2 separate regions of the Homo sapiens genome follow, and region 2 is linked to region 1. A link means that fine-mapping ties the variant in region 1 to the plasma level of a protein whose gene starts in the linked region. Region 1 holds a variant in brackets. A gene starts in the other region. All regions are shown on their forward strands.

Region 1 (8,333 bases):
TCTCTCAGGGCTGAATGTCCCAGGCATGTGGGACATTACCCCAGTACAGCAAGAGATGAATTTCCAGAGTCCAGAAAGGACTCTGATCGAAAACACCTGCTGTCCTGGGAAGTAGTACCATCTCTGGAAAGGGTCCAGTAAAAACCAGACAGGTCCTTAAACATAAAGGAAACAAGGGTAGCCCTGGCTTCCTTTCTGTCTTCCACAGACTCAAAAACAAAAATACAGAAAAGGTACAGTAGCCTTGGGGTTTGACCACTATTAATTATGAGGGGCACGAAAATGGGAAGTGCTTCGGAAGCAACTGAGATGGTCTCTGGGGAGCAATTTGCCCACTCCCATGTGAGGCCAGTGAGCCACAGCTTAAGGATCACATGTGTCTGTTAGACTTGGGCAGCCCTCAGCCAGGACAGAGGCAGCAAGGCCCAGACCCAGCTCCCGACTCTAGCATTATTTCTCCACAGCTTGACAGGTGGGTGCCTGGGCAAGCATCTGCCCCCTCTTTTTCCTTCCCTTTTCTTGTCTTGTGCTCATTCTCCTCATGCATCCTCAATGGACGTCAAGTGTAAATAGAAGGCTCCGACTCCCAGGTCAGGCGGCTGTCAGGGGTTCCCTCCTTCTCTCTGAAATGCTCACTGTCCCTGCCAACTCTTTATTCTGTACCTGTCAGAGCTGGCTCCCTCCAATGTCTCTATGGACAGATTCCCTCCTCAGTGAAGAGTGTCAGTGACCCAAGAAGTCCCTGGAATCAGGCCGTCTCTCAGAGCAGAGACGGTTTCAGCTGGGGGTTTTTCCTCTCCCTTTCACCAGTCCAGCATTTAGCGTGAGGAACTATTTATGCATGAGGTGGGCCTGGGTGATAGTTATGGGGAAAGGGGTGCTGTGGAAGGATTCTACCAGATACAGGATGCCAGCGTCATCCCCAGTGCCACATCTTGCTACATTCCTACTATTATGGCCCCCATACTGGTCCAGACAGAGCAAGACCCTGGGAAGGTTGGGCATCAGGTAGAGTTGGCTTTTGAAGTCTCCCTCATGTCAAGTGGAGATGTCCAGCCAGTGTGTGAGGAGGGGTGATATGATTTGGCACTGTGTCCCAACCCAAATCTCATTTCCAATTGTAATCCCCAAGTGTCAAGGGAGGGACCTGTGATCTCCGTGTGTTGAGGAAGGAAAGTGATTGGACCATGGCGGTGGTTTCCCCCAAGCTGTTCTCATGATAGTGAGTGTGTTCTCACAAGATCGATGGCTTTATAAGTGTTTGGAAGTTCCTTCTTCATGCTTCTTTCTCCTGCCACCTTGTGAAGAAGGTGCCTGCTTCTGCCATGATTGCAAATTTTCTGAGGCCTCCCCAGCCATGCGGAACGGTGGGTCAATTAAAATTCTTTCCTTTACAATTACCCAGTCTCAGGTAGTATTCTTTATAGCAGTGTGAGAATGGACTAATACAAGGGAAGAGGCAGGTCATTTGTTGACACCATGGGAGTTGACACCATGGGAGTTGTGGTAGAGATTTCTGAGGCAGGCTGTGTGGATCTGAGGCGAGAGTCTGAGAGAACACCCAGTTAGCAAGAGGGAGTAGCAAGAATTTGGAAAGGAGGCTGGAGGGAGACCTTAGAGGAGTAGAGCGGAAACCAGGAGAATGTAGCACTTCATCAGGTCAGAGAGGAGAGGATCAACAGTGTTGTGTTGCCAGGAGATCAAGGAGGCTCAAGCCTGAGGAAGGGAGATGGTTGGTGATTAAGATAGATCCCGAGCACGGTGGCCAGGCATGGCTGTGCACACTGCACACCCCCAGGGGGAGTCGTCTACACCCTCGTCTGTGGGATGGTGACCCCTGGAGTTGTGTAGTGTATAACTTGTGTGGCTACTGGAGACACCCTGCTCATGAGAATCTTATCAGCCTAGGGGTGAAGGAAGAAGCCCCATTATGAGCTGCTGAAGTGTGAGCAGGAGGCATGGTGGAGCTGGAGCAGTGAGGGTGATCTGTGAAAGGAGTTTAGATGTGAAGGAAAGAAAAAGATATAGTGGCTGGAAAGCATATCTGCCTTGAGGGAAAACAACCTTATTTTACACTTGGAAATCTGAGCATGATTTAGCCAAAAGCAACAACAGCAACAACAGCAACCCCACTAAAGTAGGAGAGAGAACAGATAAGGGAGAGCGAAGGGAGAGAGGAATCCATCCATTCAGAAAGCAGTCTTTATTGCCAGCCTCCTGAGTGTCTTCTCATCGTGTGCTGGAATGTAGCTGTGGAGACAAAACAGCTCCCGCCCTCACGAAGCTTATAGTTAGTGACCAGTGACACTATAGATAGGGAGTGAAGGGTGGGTGGGGCGGCGTTGGGTTTGTGGGGCAGGGCAGACTTCTCTGAGGAGGTGACCTTTGAGCTGAGACCTGGATGATGAGAAGGAGCGCACCCTGTGAAGACCATGGGGAGGAGCGTACCTGGCAGAGGCAGTGGCTGGTGCAGCAGTTCCCAAGGTCAGGCAGGAAGATCCCAGCCTGGCTGGGTCAGAGCTGCAGAAAGGGCTGGGTGGTGAGCCTGGGTCAGGCAGGGCCTCTCAGGCTATGGGAAGATGTTTCCATGAGAGTACCGTGACATGTACTCCTCTCTTATGGAGGAGAGGTCACCTACACATGTCACTGTACTCTCATGGAAACCGGAACCTATTGGCTTGGGATCCTCTTGAGATCTGGGATAATCTCATGGCCTGGGATTCTCTTGAGGGTCTCAGTCACCTCCCTATCCTGGCATAGAGTGAAATAACTGAGGCTTGAATGAAAGTCTTCCTCCAAGTCAGCCATCAGAAACATGCCTTATCTGAGTCAGGAAGAGTTTAAATTCATGGCTTCGTAGGAAGGTCTGTGAGTCAGGCCCAAGCTCAGGGCGTTTCTACAGGCCCTTACACATGCTATGTATGTGGGGACAGGGGTGGACTGAGGCATTTCAGTAGTCCTGAGTCACCTCACCCACATAGACACCAGCTGCACTAAACTTTCCAGGTTGATGAGGTTAACTCTGAAGCCCTCCTGCCATTATTTCTGGATCCCTGAATTTCCCTGCAGTGTTCTTTCTCTATCCACACTGTTCGCCTGCTACATCTTGCTGCTCAAGCTTCTTCTTGGGGTACCCCCTTAGCTCAGCTTAAAAATTACATCCCTTATTTTTTAGCCATTCTCTCATCCTCATAAAAATTTCTATCTCCTTAATGCAGACATTAGCAAGAAAGCAATCTAATTGAAAAAATTCATGCTAAGGTGTTGGTATCACCATCACACTCATGGGGGTATTTGATTGTTGAAAAAAGAAAGATATGTGCCCAGATTACAGCATTTACTCAATGCATTGAGGACACACATGTTTGCCAAGGGATGGGCGTTAGAAAGATAAGAGAAAGGTTTAGGAATGGTAAGCCTTCCCAAATCTCCTAAAACCTTGTGCCTAAGGCTAACTTTGTTTCCAGATCCCAAAAGACAGAAAAGACAGTCCTCCACATTTGCAAGCCAAGATCAAGGTAGCTTGATGGTCTGAGGACAGGATAGTTACAAAGCACAGTTAGATTCTTAAGGTGCCTGCGTGCCTACCATTGGGTCAGCCCCAATCTGAAACCAGCTTCTCCGATTGGGGTTAAAATAACACCAAAACAAAACAAAGCAAAACAAAAAAACAAAAAAATAAACAAGGATGAAGCAACATATGTTGGAAACCTACGTGTATGTTATTTTATTTACTCTTCATCACAATCCCATGATCAGATTGTATATTGTCCCATTTTCCAGATGAAACTGAGGCTCAGAAATATTTAGTGATTTTCCCAGGGTCATGCAAATATACTTAAAGCACTGGGATTCAAACCAGGCCTGTCTGACTCCAAAGCTCCATTCCTCCTCCTGTGCCTCAGGGTTAAAACTCTATCCTAAGGCGGTGGCAGCTGTCCCGGCCAGGGCATTCTGAGAGCCACTTGCAGCTCTTCCATTTACCAGGTTGAGATTTACTTCCTGTCTCTGGGCTTCAATTTTCTCATCTAGAAAACTGGGAGACAGACGAAGTTCTTTGAGGTTCCCTTGCAGGCCTAAGCATCACCGTGTTGGGTGATTCTTCCTTTGATAAGTCAGTGTACAGCTCATTTGATGTGCAAATGTCAAAATGTCAGCAGTGCCATGAACCCTTGAGCATTCGGCTCCTTAGAGAGAAGCCTCTTGAAGGGCGGCAGGAGGTGGGCCACCTTGGACCGGCAAGTCCACAGAGGCCTGGAGAGATGTGGTGCACAGGAGAGAGGTAGATCCTCCAGCTAACCCTGGGATTTCCCGGGGAATGGGCATTTGTGTACCTCCTTGTGGACAGGGCCTGAGCCCATGGCCCGATGATCACCTGAGTTTTTACAAGGTGGTTGAGAGTTTGGGTGTGTTTTTCCTCTCTCCTTTTGAAAACCAAGAGGTCAGCGTGAGTGTAATTCTGACACATGAAATCTGCTCCTTGTTTGGAAACACCCTTTTCAAATA[A/C]ATCTTGAGATGGGATTAAGAGAACAGTTTTGGCTCGTTTTCAGGACTGTCATCTGTTGAACATCTCCCAGCTCATTTGAAGGAAGTGACAGAAGAGAGTGAGATTTCAAATCAGGGAAATTGGCGACAGGCTCTGCTCAAATTGGCCTCCCCACCTCCAGCGTGCAGCCCGCAGAAAACAAAAGCTCCGGAGTAGGAAAGTGACACAGCGCCACCTCCCGGTAGCCTGGCCGGCCAAGGCCTCTGGCTTAAGCGGGCCTCTGGCCTGCCAAAATGCCTGGGGAGGGAAGAGCTGTGTCTCTGCACTCATAAGATGGGAACAGGGGGGTTCTGGGAGCTCCAAACGTTTCAGTTCACAGTGTGTGCAGTCGTGTGTCTTGCGCATACACACATGCACATAGACAGCCAATTTGAACACCGAGGATTAACTTGTCTTAAAGGGGCAACTCTCTCGTCCATCTACTTTTAGGCAGATTTTAAAGACGATCATAGTAGTTAGCATATGGACTTTGGAGCCTGGTTGCCTGGGTTCAAATCTCAGCTTGGCACTTAATAGCTGTGCAACCTTGGCCAACTTACTTAACCTCTCTGTGTCTGTTTCATCTCCTACAGAATAAGGATAATAAGAGTATCAACCTCAGAGGATCACTGCAAGAATTGAGTGGGATACATATGACGTGCTTAGCACAGTTTGTGGCCCATGGTAAGTGCTCAGTATGTATTAGCTATTTTTGGTATTCAATTAAATATAGCTCACACATTTTTTTTTTCTTCTTTACACCCACCTGTTCGGCCATTTCTAACTGCCTGTTGGCTTATACATCCTATGCAGATGTTTCTGGTTCAAGGAAGATAATGCTAAATCCACAGTTTTGCTGAAATAATTGACCCTACCCAAACGCACACCCTAAACTGAATGAACTACTTGGCAGATTTTGAGAAAAATCATCCTTGGGTAACTCCCATGTATTTTTTTTGTTTTTGTTTTCGAGCAGCCTGGCTGTGCAGTTGGGGCAGTTGATGCTTCAGAGTAAACCCAGGAAGGCTTCATGGGCCTGTGGATGATACATACAGCACTCTCAAATGTTGAGCTTCAACTCATGAGGCAATATTAGTCCTGGATTTTCCTACATTTGTCTGTAGATTGCTCCAGGGACACTGGCAGATGAGGAAAGGGTTTCATTTCAAGCCTTCCTGCTACATTTGAGCCAGAAGGTCTCTGGGAAGCTCCTTCATGGGGCCAGACTTGGGATGTGCATCCATCTTGATGGAAAGTTCTCCCAACCTAGAGAAAAGATGGTGAGGCAACAGGCTGCCAAGGTCAGAGGCTGGTCTTTCCCAAAGTCAACCGTAAATCAAAGCCTCCAAGGTGACCGACCACGTGTCACAGACACCAGCTCTGCAGTCTCTGAGCGGGTGGCACAGGGCTTGATGACAGGAGGCCACCCCTTCCCCAGCCCATCTGCTGCTAGGGAAGACCAGCGTGTGGGCTGTTCATTGCCACCAAGGAGGTTTTCCTGCTGTTTACTGAGGTTTAACTCTCCTTGTAAAGGAGGGCCTGGCCCAAACATCTGTTTCATCAAAGGGGTTGGAGTCTTGGAGACACAAAAGCTTCTCTCAGTGGCTCCATTCTATGGCCTTTATCGCTCCCAGAGTCGTCCTATTAATATGCTGAAACAGCCATGACTTTGCCACTATGAACGTGTCTAGGGAGCACAGCCAGGTTTCAGGGTGAGGAAGGAGAGAAAGGGAGAGTCCTTTGAATCCCCTCAGACTTTACACTTGGCTTCCTCTTATGGGTAAGACTTAACCATGACTCACCTGTTTTAGAATGTTTTGTTAGCCAATCCCTGATTTGCTTGAAACCTCCAAAGTCTCAAGAAAATAGCCTCAAGGGAACTTGGAGCTAAGTCGCAATGTCTCAGGCCTAATAAATAAACTGCATATGAGGACAGCACATGATCGAAAGAGCAAATGCCAGACCGGGAATCTTCAGGTCCAGCACTTGGAAGTCACTGGGATTTTTGCAGAAAACCATGAAGCATTAACGTTTTAAGTTTAAAGGATTAAATAGATAATTTAGGGCTACATCTGACTGTGGAGCCCTGGAGTCTCCTGCTATTTATTGGCTATTTAACTCTGCAGTAGTTACTTCACGTCTCTGAAACTCCATTTCCTCATCTGTCAAAGGGACGGAAAATACTGGGGTGAGGACTTAATGACAAATAATATGTTTTACTCCCTCTAGTGCTTGGCACGTAGACACTCAAACAATGGTAACCAAGTAACAAAAGTTTAAGAGAAATGTGTCAGAGAAGAAGCTAACTTGAGAAATGCTTTTCCATTGAAATTATTATTATTTAAAAAGTTTTGTTTTTGTAAATTGGGAAAAGAGTGCCACAGCTTGATGATAGTGGAGTGGCAGACGTGTTGTATGGCCCGGCTAGGGCAGGCGGCCCTGATATATGCAGCGGTGTGGCTTCCTGTGCTAGGTTAGGGTTCTCAACCTTCTCTACCTATGACAACACACCTATCCAGTGGCATGAGGTTGCCCAACCCACTCTCCTCATTGATGACAGGTTCGAATCCTAGCTCGATCACTAGCTTTGCATTATCTTGGGCAAGTAAATGAGTGATATGAATAGTACCTACCTTCCAGGTTTTGGGGGGTGGGTGGGTAACTGTGATTATGTAGATAAAGCACTGAGGACAGTCTTGAGCACAAAATAAATGCTCAATCCAAAAGAAAAAAATGCGTTCATGATTTCTGTATGATTTTCAGCCCCAGCTATAACCCCGTCTTTTTCACTCAGGGAAGCAATTTGGAAAATAACACTGTGATAGGGATACTCTTGAATCTGCTCAAAAATTGCTAAAACTCATTCACACATAGATTTAATCATTATCAGTAACAAATTATTTGTGAATGACTTCATAACTGTTGTAGATCACAAGTCCTCAAACGCAAATGGGTGCCATACTTTTCTCCAGGCTGCGTGAAATCTGCATTTGCTTCAGGTGGCTGCTGTAACAAATTACCACCAACTTGTTGGCTTAAGCCAATACGATTGTATTATCTTACAGTTCTGAAGCTCAGAAGTCCTAAATGGATGCCAGTGGGCTAAAATCAAGGTGTCGGCCGGGCTATGCTTTTTCTGCAGGCTCTAGGGGAGAATTGTTTGCTTGCCTTTTCCAGATTTTAAAGGCTACCTCCTTCCTTGGCTTGTGGCCACATTCTGTCTTCAAAGCCAGCAATGGTCAGATGAGTCTTTACTCCTATGCCATCTCTCTGACTCTTCTCCACTTAAGATGCCTTGTGATTACACTGAGTTCACCCCAATAATCCAGGATAATTGCCCTATTTTAAGATCAGGTGATTAGCAACCTTAATTCCATTTGCAGTTTCTACTTGCCATATGATACAACAGATTCATAGGTTGTAGGAATTAGGATTGTGGACATCTTTGGGGTTGGCAGCTGGGGGCGGCAGTGGGTATGGGAGGGGCATATTTTGGCAACCACATGGGATAACTTTGAATCTGCCAAAATTACTTAAAATTCATTCACACATATTGTTGCTTTAATCATCAGTAACAAATACAGTGAATAACTCCACAATCAATATTGATAAGAGGGCCTCAAATACGGTGGGGGCCATACTTTTCTCTAGGCTACATGAAATGTGAAAAGATAAGATAATATGGCAATTTTTAACTGAAAATAAACTTACTCCATTTAAAGGACTATTCTTTTGGTATTAAAATGTTGGCAGCAGATGATAGTTGGCTTTTAAAATTGTTGACGTACTTGTCAAATATAAAAGTTAG
Region 2 (8,333 bases), not on the chromosome of region 1:
TATGCCTTGTGTTGGTCCAGGGAGGGCTTTTCTCCCTGCACTTCCTCCAGGGCCCATCCCATAGAGCACAGGCACACAGCAAGTTGGATGCTTTCGTTTTAATAGCTCTGGGCTACAAGGGTATTTAAGGCTTTAAGTCCAATGATCCCATTCTTTTCAGCTTCTCATGCCCATGGTTTTAATAGACTGAATTTCTTCAGTAATTTTTGTGCAAATTCACTTCCATCTAGAAGGAAAGATGAGACAAATGAGGCTTTTAGGACCCCAGGCACCAGCTCCACCCCTTCCATTTCTCCTCAATTCCATCTCTGCTTTCCAGACTTACTGAGACTCTGGAGAGGCTTACACAGAAGTTGGAGGGATTGAGATTAGATTCACCAGAGCCTGAAGGACCTACCCTCTTCCCCACCTTGGCAGGGGCAGGGGACAAGAATAGAAACAAGCAGGCTCTGCTGCGGGAAGGTAGGGGGTTAGACCCCAGGTGAATCAATATCAGACAACATGGCACATTGAATCTGTTCTTTTTTTTTGAGACAGGGTCTTTCTCTGTCACCCAGGATGGAGTGCAGTGGCACAATCTCGGCCCACTGCAATCTCTGCCTCACGGGCTCAGGTGATCCTCCCACCTTAGCCTCCCAAGTAGCTGGGACTACAGGCATGTGCCACCACGCCTGGCTAATTTTTGTATTTTTTTGTAGAGATGGGGTATCGCCATGTTGCCCAGGCTAGTCTTGAACTCCTGGGCTCAAGCGATCCACCTGCCTTGGCCTCCCAAAGTGCTGGGATTACAGGCGTGAACCACCGTGCCCAGCTGGCAATTTGAATCTGGATGAGAAATTGGAAACATATGAAAGCACAAAGTGAGGGGTCTTCAACAGCAGGGGCTGTGGCAATTCCAAGTCTCATATGTGAGGTGGAAATGGGGGCAAGTTCTGTCCCATATCCCACCCCCGGATGGTGGGTGGTGAGTATTCTCATTCCCACAAAGCCTTGCCTTGGGATGCACTCACTTTCGATGAATTGTTTTCCACCTGGCACGCCTCCGTGCATTCCTTTTCCTGCTTTTGCAAGGGCTTGTTCTGTTAGTAAGATACTTTTCTCCACTATGGATTCTAATTTTGGAGCAGAACAATCACATCAGCAGAAAAATCACCTCATTTAAAGAGAACTCTGCATTGCCCCACCTGCACCCGCCCCCCACCCCCACTCCACCCAGGACATCATCCCTACAGAAAGTCCTAAAGTGCAGAAGTTTTGCTGAGGGCTCCAGCACTTCTCTCATAGGAAGTTGTGTGAGCCAGGACAGAAACCATGTATTGTGCAGGCTGCAACATCTACTATTGTGAAAACGTTGTGTGTGGGTGCAATGCACAATCCCATTTGTGCCTTTGTGTTCAGCTGTTTGAGTCTACCTGCTTCTCACCAGGCTTATCTCTGTGCGTGGAGGTGTGATGTGGGCCTGCAGCCAGAGACTTTTCTAGGTTGTTGATCTGGCATAGAGACAGAGACTTACTCAGGGGGTTTAGTTCCTGCCTGCTTGAGGTGACCTTGGCTGTCCCCTGAACTGCTGCCGCCGAAGTCTCCTGGGCTGTTGTGGTTGTCTCTGGGGGTGAAGCTGGTTCTGCTGGACCTGAGATCTCTTCATTAGGCTTAGCTGTGAATGCACAAATTGATGGATTTTAGCAAAGTGAAAGTGTTTGTTTCTTTTGGAATGGGTTGCAGGGCCCCAGGATACCTAATGTGTGCTGGGTGCCAGGATACAGAAGTGATATGGCTTAAACGCTGCCCCCTTAAGGGAGATAGCATTTCTGCATGCTGTGTGTCTCTTGGAATGCAGCGGGCAGGGTTGGGGAAGGATTTGGACTAGGGGATGGTGAGAATCGGGGAGCACTTCATAGAGAAGCTGGATCTTGAAGGCAGGATGTTAGCAGGAGAGGATGTACCAAAGGGGCTTCCCTGGGGGCAGGCAGTGAGTAAGAGGTCAGGCGAAGGCATGTGTGGGGAATGGAAACAAGTTCAATTTAGCTGATGTGGGTGCGACATAAAAGAGAGTCATGGAAAATGGGGTTGGAAAATGAGGTTAGAGGCCAGATAATGGTTATCTTGCTAAGGAATTGGGAGTAATGGGAGGTGTTTGCAGGTGAAGGTATTAATGCCATGTGAGACATTGCCCTTACCACTTAACCTCATGTTTCTCTCCCTTTTATTCACAATAACCTTTTCCCCATGCTCCCTATTGTCCTTGCCTCTCTGGGTCATCCTCTTTTGTCCTTAGCCTTGTACCATTTCAACCCATGCCACCTTCTTTATTATATTACCTGCCCCTCCCCATTACCACCAAGCACAGAATCCAGATCTCCTCCCACTGGCTTCTTCTCCCAGCCACCACTCACATCCCTAACTGTTAAACCTTCCCAACGAGGGCTAGGGCAGCAGGGAGAGGAGGACTCACAGGTCCCAGCTTCCTGGGCAGGATCAGCACCCGTCGAGTCAGAGGAGGCATCTTCTGCAATGGGGGAAACATGCCAGATGAGAGCAAGGACCGAACCGGACCTACTCGAGCCACCCTCCCCTCCCATTCCCAAAGCTTATCTCCTGGGAATGCTCATGGATAGAAGGGGATCAATTTCCCTTTGGGTTGGACATGCCCTTCCACCATATCAGCGGGTCTACTGGGGCACTCTCTGATGTTTAACTCCTGTGGCTTTTGAAATAACTTCCCCTCTGAGAAGTGTAATGTCTCTTGGAACAGTGCCTTCCTCCTGACTGGCCCCTGGCTTGGTAGGCTTCCCTGAGGTGTCTGTCATGGAGCTGGCCATGGTCAGAGGGGCTCAACCTCCTCTGTGGTGGAGGAGGACAGTATGTGGGGGTTATGGGGCCATATTTGAGCGATTTGCAGGATTGAGACCCCAGCCTTGATTCCCTTTATTCTTTCAACACAACATTTATGCAAAGCTCTGTGCCAAGAGATGGAGGTGCAGTGCTGAAGAGGGCAGACAAGACCCCTGCCCTGACAGAGCTTACATCTGTCCTTTTACGAAATTATTTAATGGCTGGTGTGACAGTGCTGGAAGGGAACGTGCAGCCTGGTGCGAGAAGGGCACATGGATCTGATTTGTTCCGCATGTGCATGGAAGGCCTTTTTGGGGAATTATATGTAAACTGAGATTTTCTAGATGAAAAATCATTGGCCAGGTGACATTAGAGTTGGTTGGGGGAAGGGGCCAGGGAGAGGGAAAGCATTCTAGACGAGGAAAGGACAAGAAGGAAGATCCTGATGTTCAAGGAACAGCAGGATCATCATGGCCCAAATAGTGCTTCTGTGGATCAAAAAAGGCATCCCAGCAGGGCACGGTGGCTCACGCCTGTAATTCCAACACTTTGGGAGGCCAAGGCAGTCGGATCACCTGAGGTCAGGAGTTCGAGACCAACCTGGCCAACATGGTGAAACACCGTCTCTACTAAAAATACAAAATTAGCTGGGCAAGGTGGCATGAGCCTGTAGTCCCAGCTACCCAGGAGGCTGAGGCAAGATAATCGCTGGAACCCAGGAGGTGGATGTTGCAGTGAGCAGAGATCGTGCCACTGCACTCCAGCCTGGGCAACAGAGGGAGACTCGGTCTCAAAAAAAAAAAAAAAAAAAAGGCATCCCTTCCTCCTAAGAGACACAGCCAGGGGCCAGGCTCACTGCTTGGCAAGTAGAGTGTCGGCCAGATTTTAGCTTCTACCACTCCTTGCCTGGGCACCCTCGTGTAGGGGACACCCTGCTCAACTACATGCAGGGGACACCAGAGAAGCCAGTGTAGCTGAGGCATAGTGGGTAAACAATGGTGTGTGAGGAGATGAGCTGGGAGGGCAGGCAGAGGCCAGAGAGTTCTGGGTTCCTCTGGCCAGTGGGGTGCAGAGGCCACGTGTGGAGAACTGGGAGAGGAGTCACTTGCAGAGGCAGGGAAACCAGAATAGCACTGAGAGAGGAGGAGAGGGGTGAAGGCAGGAGTGAGGGGCTCCTTGGACTGGGAGGACTCTTGTGGGGCGCAGAGGAAAGGCCATACTCACCAGCATAGACCAGGGCCCCTGCTACAGCTGCCAAGAAGAGGAGAGTGGTAAATTTCATTCTTTGGGATGAGGAGTGAGTATAACCACAGAATCTGCAGAAGGTCTGGGGAATAAGGATGCTGAAATTGCTGGGCCCTTTTAAGGATATCAAGGGCCAATGGGAACCAAGCCTGGAGAGGTGTGACTTCCGCATCCTCCTCCCCTTCTTCCCCAAACTGTCACCTGCTAAGTCAACAAGGGCTAGGTTGGGCTGGCTGATACCTGGGATCCTTGCAGGCAGGTCCTGGATAGGAGCCTTTCTCTAACTCCCAGCCATCCCTTTTCTTTCTCCCTCCTCCCTTCCCCACCACACCTGCCCTCTGGGTTCACACCCCTGGGCTCTCAGGGACGGTAGGTAGAGCACATTTCACTTGGGGAGATTCTGGGATGTGTCTGTTGAGGGTTCTGGTAGAGAAATCTTAATCTTGTCATCTCTCCAGGAGGAGGTTGAGGGCTCAGGGGATTACATTGTCCACCTTCTGTCCCAGTCTACATAGGACTCAGTGCAGGGTTTGAAGGTTTCCCCAAACTAAGTGAGCCCGTTTCCTTGGGAGACCACACCTAGAACACTTGAGGCCTGAGTTCCTGGCTGCTTTCTCCCCATGAGGGGATGGGTTTGAAGGCGTGTGTGCCTTCTCTGGAGTTGTTCTCTGTTCTTGACATTATCCAGCCCCTAAAAAGAACTCCTCCAGGCTCACATAGGCCTGTCAATCTCTGTCTTCAGGCCTACTCAATGGGACCCCACATTTCTGAGAGAATCTCCTGGTCAAAGCATGATGGTGGTTCACTGAAATTGGAGCTTGGTTCTGACTTCAAGTGGGGAGCTGACCCATGGTGTGAATAATCCAGAAAAGCAGATTATTCTAAAGAAGCTTCTCTTTGACTTGGCGTTTCTTCCTTTCCTGATCTGGGACTCTAGAGGTCTGGATTTTGAGTTCTGGCTTTGTCATATGAAAATGTTAGGATTTGAAAAGTGATAGGATTTTTATTTGTTGTCTAGGAGTTGTGGCTCCTATGTACAGCATAGTGGTGGAGATTAAGTGGGATAATATACGGCAAAGCATTTTTTTAGACAGCGAAGTTCTATGGAGTTGTGTGGGGTTCTTGTACCATCTTTCCAAGTAGGTTTTTGTCCAGGCTGGTGCTAAATGCTAGATATTAATAGAACGGGCCGTGGAGCAGGAGTCAGTTGAGGGGCTGAAGGGTGGAGAATAAGGTGCTGGATGTCAATTTGTGACTTTCCCCTTGCTTGGTGTTGGCATTCACCCAGCCCCATGTGGGCTGATTCCGGAGGCTTCTCTGCCTCATGGTAGCTCTGAAGATGAGTGTGAGAAGGGGGTATTGAAGAGTTTTCAACATGAGGGTGTTTTGGGTGCCAGGGTTTAGAACATTAATCTTTTCAGGAGATAAAGGAAGATAAAATTAATGGGGTGGGACATTAAAGCCTTGGCAATTGCTACCTGCCTGAGGGTCTGGGCCTGGGAGCCTTGAAGGTGGTGGTGGCCTTACCTGGAATGGGGAAGGCTGAAGAACAAGAGAAAGTTTTGATGGCACCAGTGCCCTGGGTATGTGCACATACGTGTGTGCACGTGTGTGTACACTGCAGAAGGAGAAGTCCTGCAGATCCCAAACAGATCTAGATCCCGAGCAGTCTCCATGAGCACATTAAAAAAGTCAACAGGAGCAAATTATGCTATTTGCACAAGACTTTTCTAAGAGGAAATGAGAACTTTGGCGTCAACACTAGAACTGTCACAGAGCAGGGTCTTTCCAAATGTCACCGCATAGCCCTTTCCTCTCCCAAATCTTCCTCCTGGCCTCAGTAATTAAAGAGGCAAGCATTTACATAAATAGGGATGAGGTGAAAGTAAGGACATTTGTTTTATAGAAAATTTTCATTATTCTATAACAGGGCCCAGAGAAATGTTACCCCAAATTATAGAGCCTGGGAAAGAATTGGGTGCATAGATTAAAGAGGCAGACCTCATGGATATGGGTGAGAGGCTGCTCTGTGCAATGTCTTGACGGACCTCATGGATATGGGTGAGGGGCTGCTCTGTGTGATGTCTTGTTTTCTAGGTTATCTGACCTCCATGATGACTGTCAGTTCGCTGATCTGTGTCTTGTCTCATGGGCTGCTCGTTGTACCTCTCTCCCCTCTGCCTCAGGTTTATTCTCTCTCATCTCTGCACTGGTCTGGAAGGATGCCTCTATGGGCTGTATCACCTGGGCTCCCATGCCCTCTAGCTTCGAGTTGAGTTTGGCCAATGGGAGACACAGGTGGGAGATGGGAGGGTGGGAAAAGGGAGAGATTAAGGCATTTGTTCCTCCTGCTCCCTCTCTTGCTTTGGCATGTGTGGTAGGACGACTTCAGAGATAGCTCCTGGTGATGCCTACGTCTTGGCATTGGTGCCCTGCTGTAATTTCCTCTGCTTAACTGGGCTGGGTCTCGAGATTCACTCCTAACAAATAGAAGATGGCAAAGTGATGAGGTAGTCAGTTCTGAGACTATGACTTTAGTCTTGTTTACACACACTCTGTCTCTGGATCTTCTCAGCTTGCTCTGATGAAGTGAGTGGCCATGTGTGAGGCTGTCCTGTGGAGAGACCTACGTGGCAAGAAACCGAGGACAGCCTCCAGCCTGTAGCCAGTAAGGAGCCGAGGCCCTTAGTCCAGCTATCTGTGAGGAACTCAACCCTGCCAGCTACCACGTGACTGAGCTTGGAAGTGGGTCTTTCCTCAGCTGAGTTTTGAGGTGACCGCAGCCTCGATGATACCTTGACTGCAGCCTCATTAGAGACTCTGTGTCTGAGGGCGCATCTGTACCTGGACTGCTGATCCATAACAACTGTGGATAAGAAATCATGTGTGAAGCCACCAAATGTTTGAATAATTTTTACAGCCACGGATACTTAATGCAGCATGGTGTGGCAATGGCTGTTTCTCTCTGACTGCAGCTTCTGTCTGGTCCCTGTTTCAGAGCGCCATCTCTTGTTGTCAGGTGACATTATTCACCCCCACCCCCCAACACGCTGCTTCAGACTTCCTGCTGTTGCTAGTCCATACTTGAATCTCTGTAAATAATAGATACATTTTTCCTTAAAGAACCTTTTTTAAAAAAAGCCCTCCTGAGAACCACAAACCACTGCTCAATGAAATAAGAGGACACAAACAAATGGAAGAACATTCCATGCTCTTGGATAGGAAGAATCAATATCGTGAAAATGGCCATACTGCCCAAGGTAATTTAGAGATTCAATGCCATCCCCATCAAGCTACCAATGACTTTCTTCACAGAAGTGGAAAAAACTACTTTAAAGTTCATATGGAACCAAAAAAGGGCCTGCATTGCCAAGACAATCCTAAGCAAAAAGAACAAAGCTGGAGGCATCACATTACCTGACTTCAAACTATACTACAAGCTTACAGTAACCAAAACAGCATGGTACTGGTGCCAAAACAGATATAGACCAATGGAACAGAACAGAGGCCTCAGAAATAACACCACACATCTACAACCATCTGATCTTTGACAAACCTGACAAAAACAAGAAATGGGGAAAGGATTCCTTATTTAATAAATGGTGCTGGGAAAACTGGCTAGCCATATGTAGAAAGCTGAAACTGGATCCCTTCCTTACACCTTATACAAAAATTAATTCAAGATAGATTAAAGACTTAAATGTTAGACCTAAAACCATAAAAACCCTAGAAGAAAACCTGGGCAATACCATTCAGGACATAGGCATGGGCAAGTACTTCATGACTAAAACACCAAAAGCAATGGCAACAAAAGCCAAAATAGACAAATGGGATCTAATTAAACTAAAGAGCTTCTGCACAGCAAAAGAAACTACCATCAGAGTGAACAGGCAGCCTACAGAATGGGAGAAAATTTTTGCAATCTACCCATCTGACAAAGGGCTAATATCCAGAATCTACAAAGAACTTAAACAAATTTACAAGAAAAAATCAAACAACCCCATCAAAAAGTGGGCAAAGGATATGGACAGACACTTTTGAAAAGAAGAGATTTATGCAGCCAGCAGACACATGAAAAAATGCTCATCATCACTGGCCATCAGAGAAATGCAAATCAAAACCACAATGAGATATCATCTCACAGTAGTTAGAATGGCAATAATTAAAAAGTCAGGAAACAACAGGTGCTGGAGAGGATGTGGAGAAATAGGAATGCTTTTACACCATCGGTGGGAGTGTAAACTAGCTCAACCATT

Alleles and levels. Alleles are on the strand shown, and positions count from the first base shown. The strength of an association depends on the size of the effect and on how common the allele is.
With allele A in place of C in region 1, the plasma level of the protein whose gene starts at base 4,168 in region 2 is higher (weak association).

What was found. A credible set is the group of variants that fine-mapping cannot tell apart. PIP is the chance, under the fine-mapping model, that this variant and not a neighbour inherited with it causes the effect. The UK Biobank Pharma Proteomics Project read protein levels with antibody pairs (Olink). The fine-mapping took linkage between variants from a reference panel, not from the people measured, so its PIPs are less certain.
Region 2: LACRT starts here. The variant in region 1 is the best candidate, but not a certain one, in a credible set for the plasma level of the LACRT protein (UK Biobank, PIP 0.63).

The regions. Positions count from the first base shown.
Region 1 is chr11:31,953,597-31,961,929 of GRCh38, forward strand. No RefSeq gene overlaps it. Among named protein-coding and RNA genes, the nearest start is that of LINC03031, 84 kb to the right of the region's middle. The variant A/C (reference allele first, on the strand shown) is at 4,507.
Region 2 is chr12:54,630,728-54,639,060 of GRCh38, forward strand. LACRT (lacritin) reads right to left here and starts at 4,168. Exons shown (of 5, transcript NM_033277.2): 1 at 4,057-4,168; 2 at 2,453-2,506; 3 at 1,514-1,654; 4 at 1,011-1,112; 5 at 84-226. The coding sequence starts at 4,114. The coding sequence ends at 165.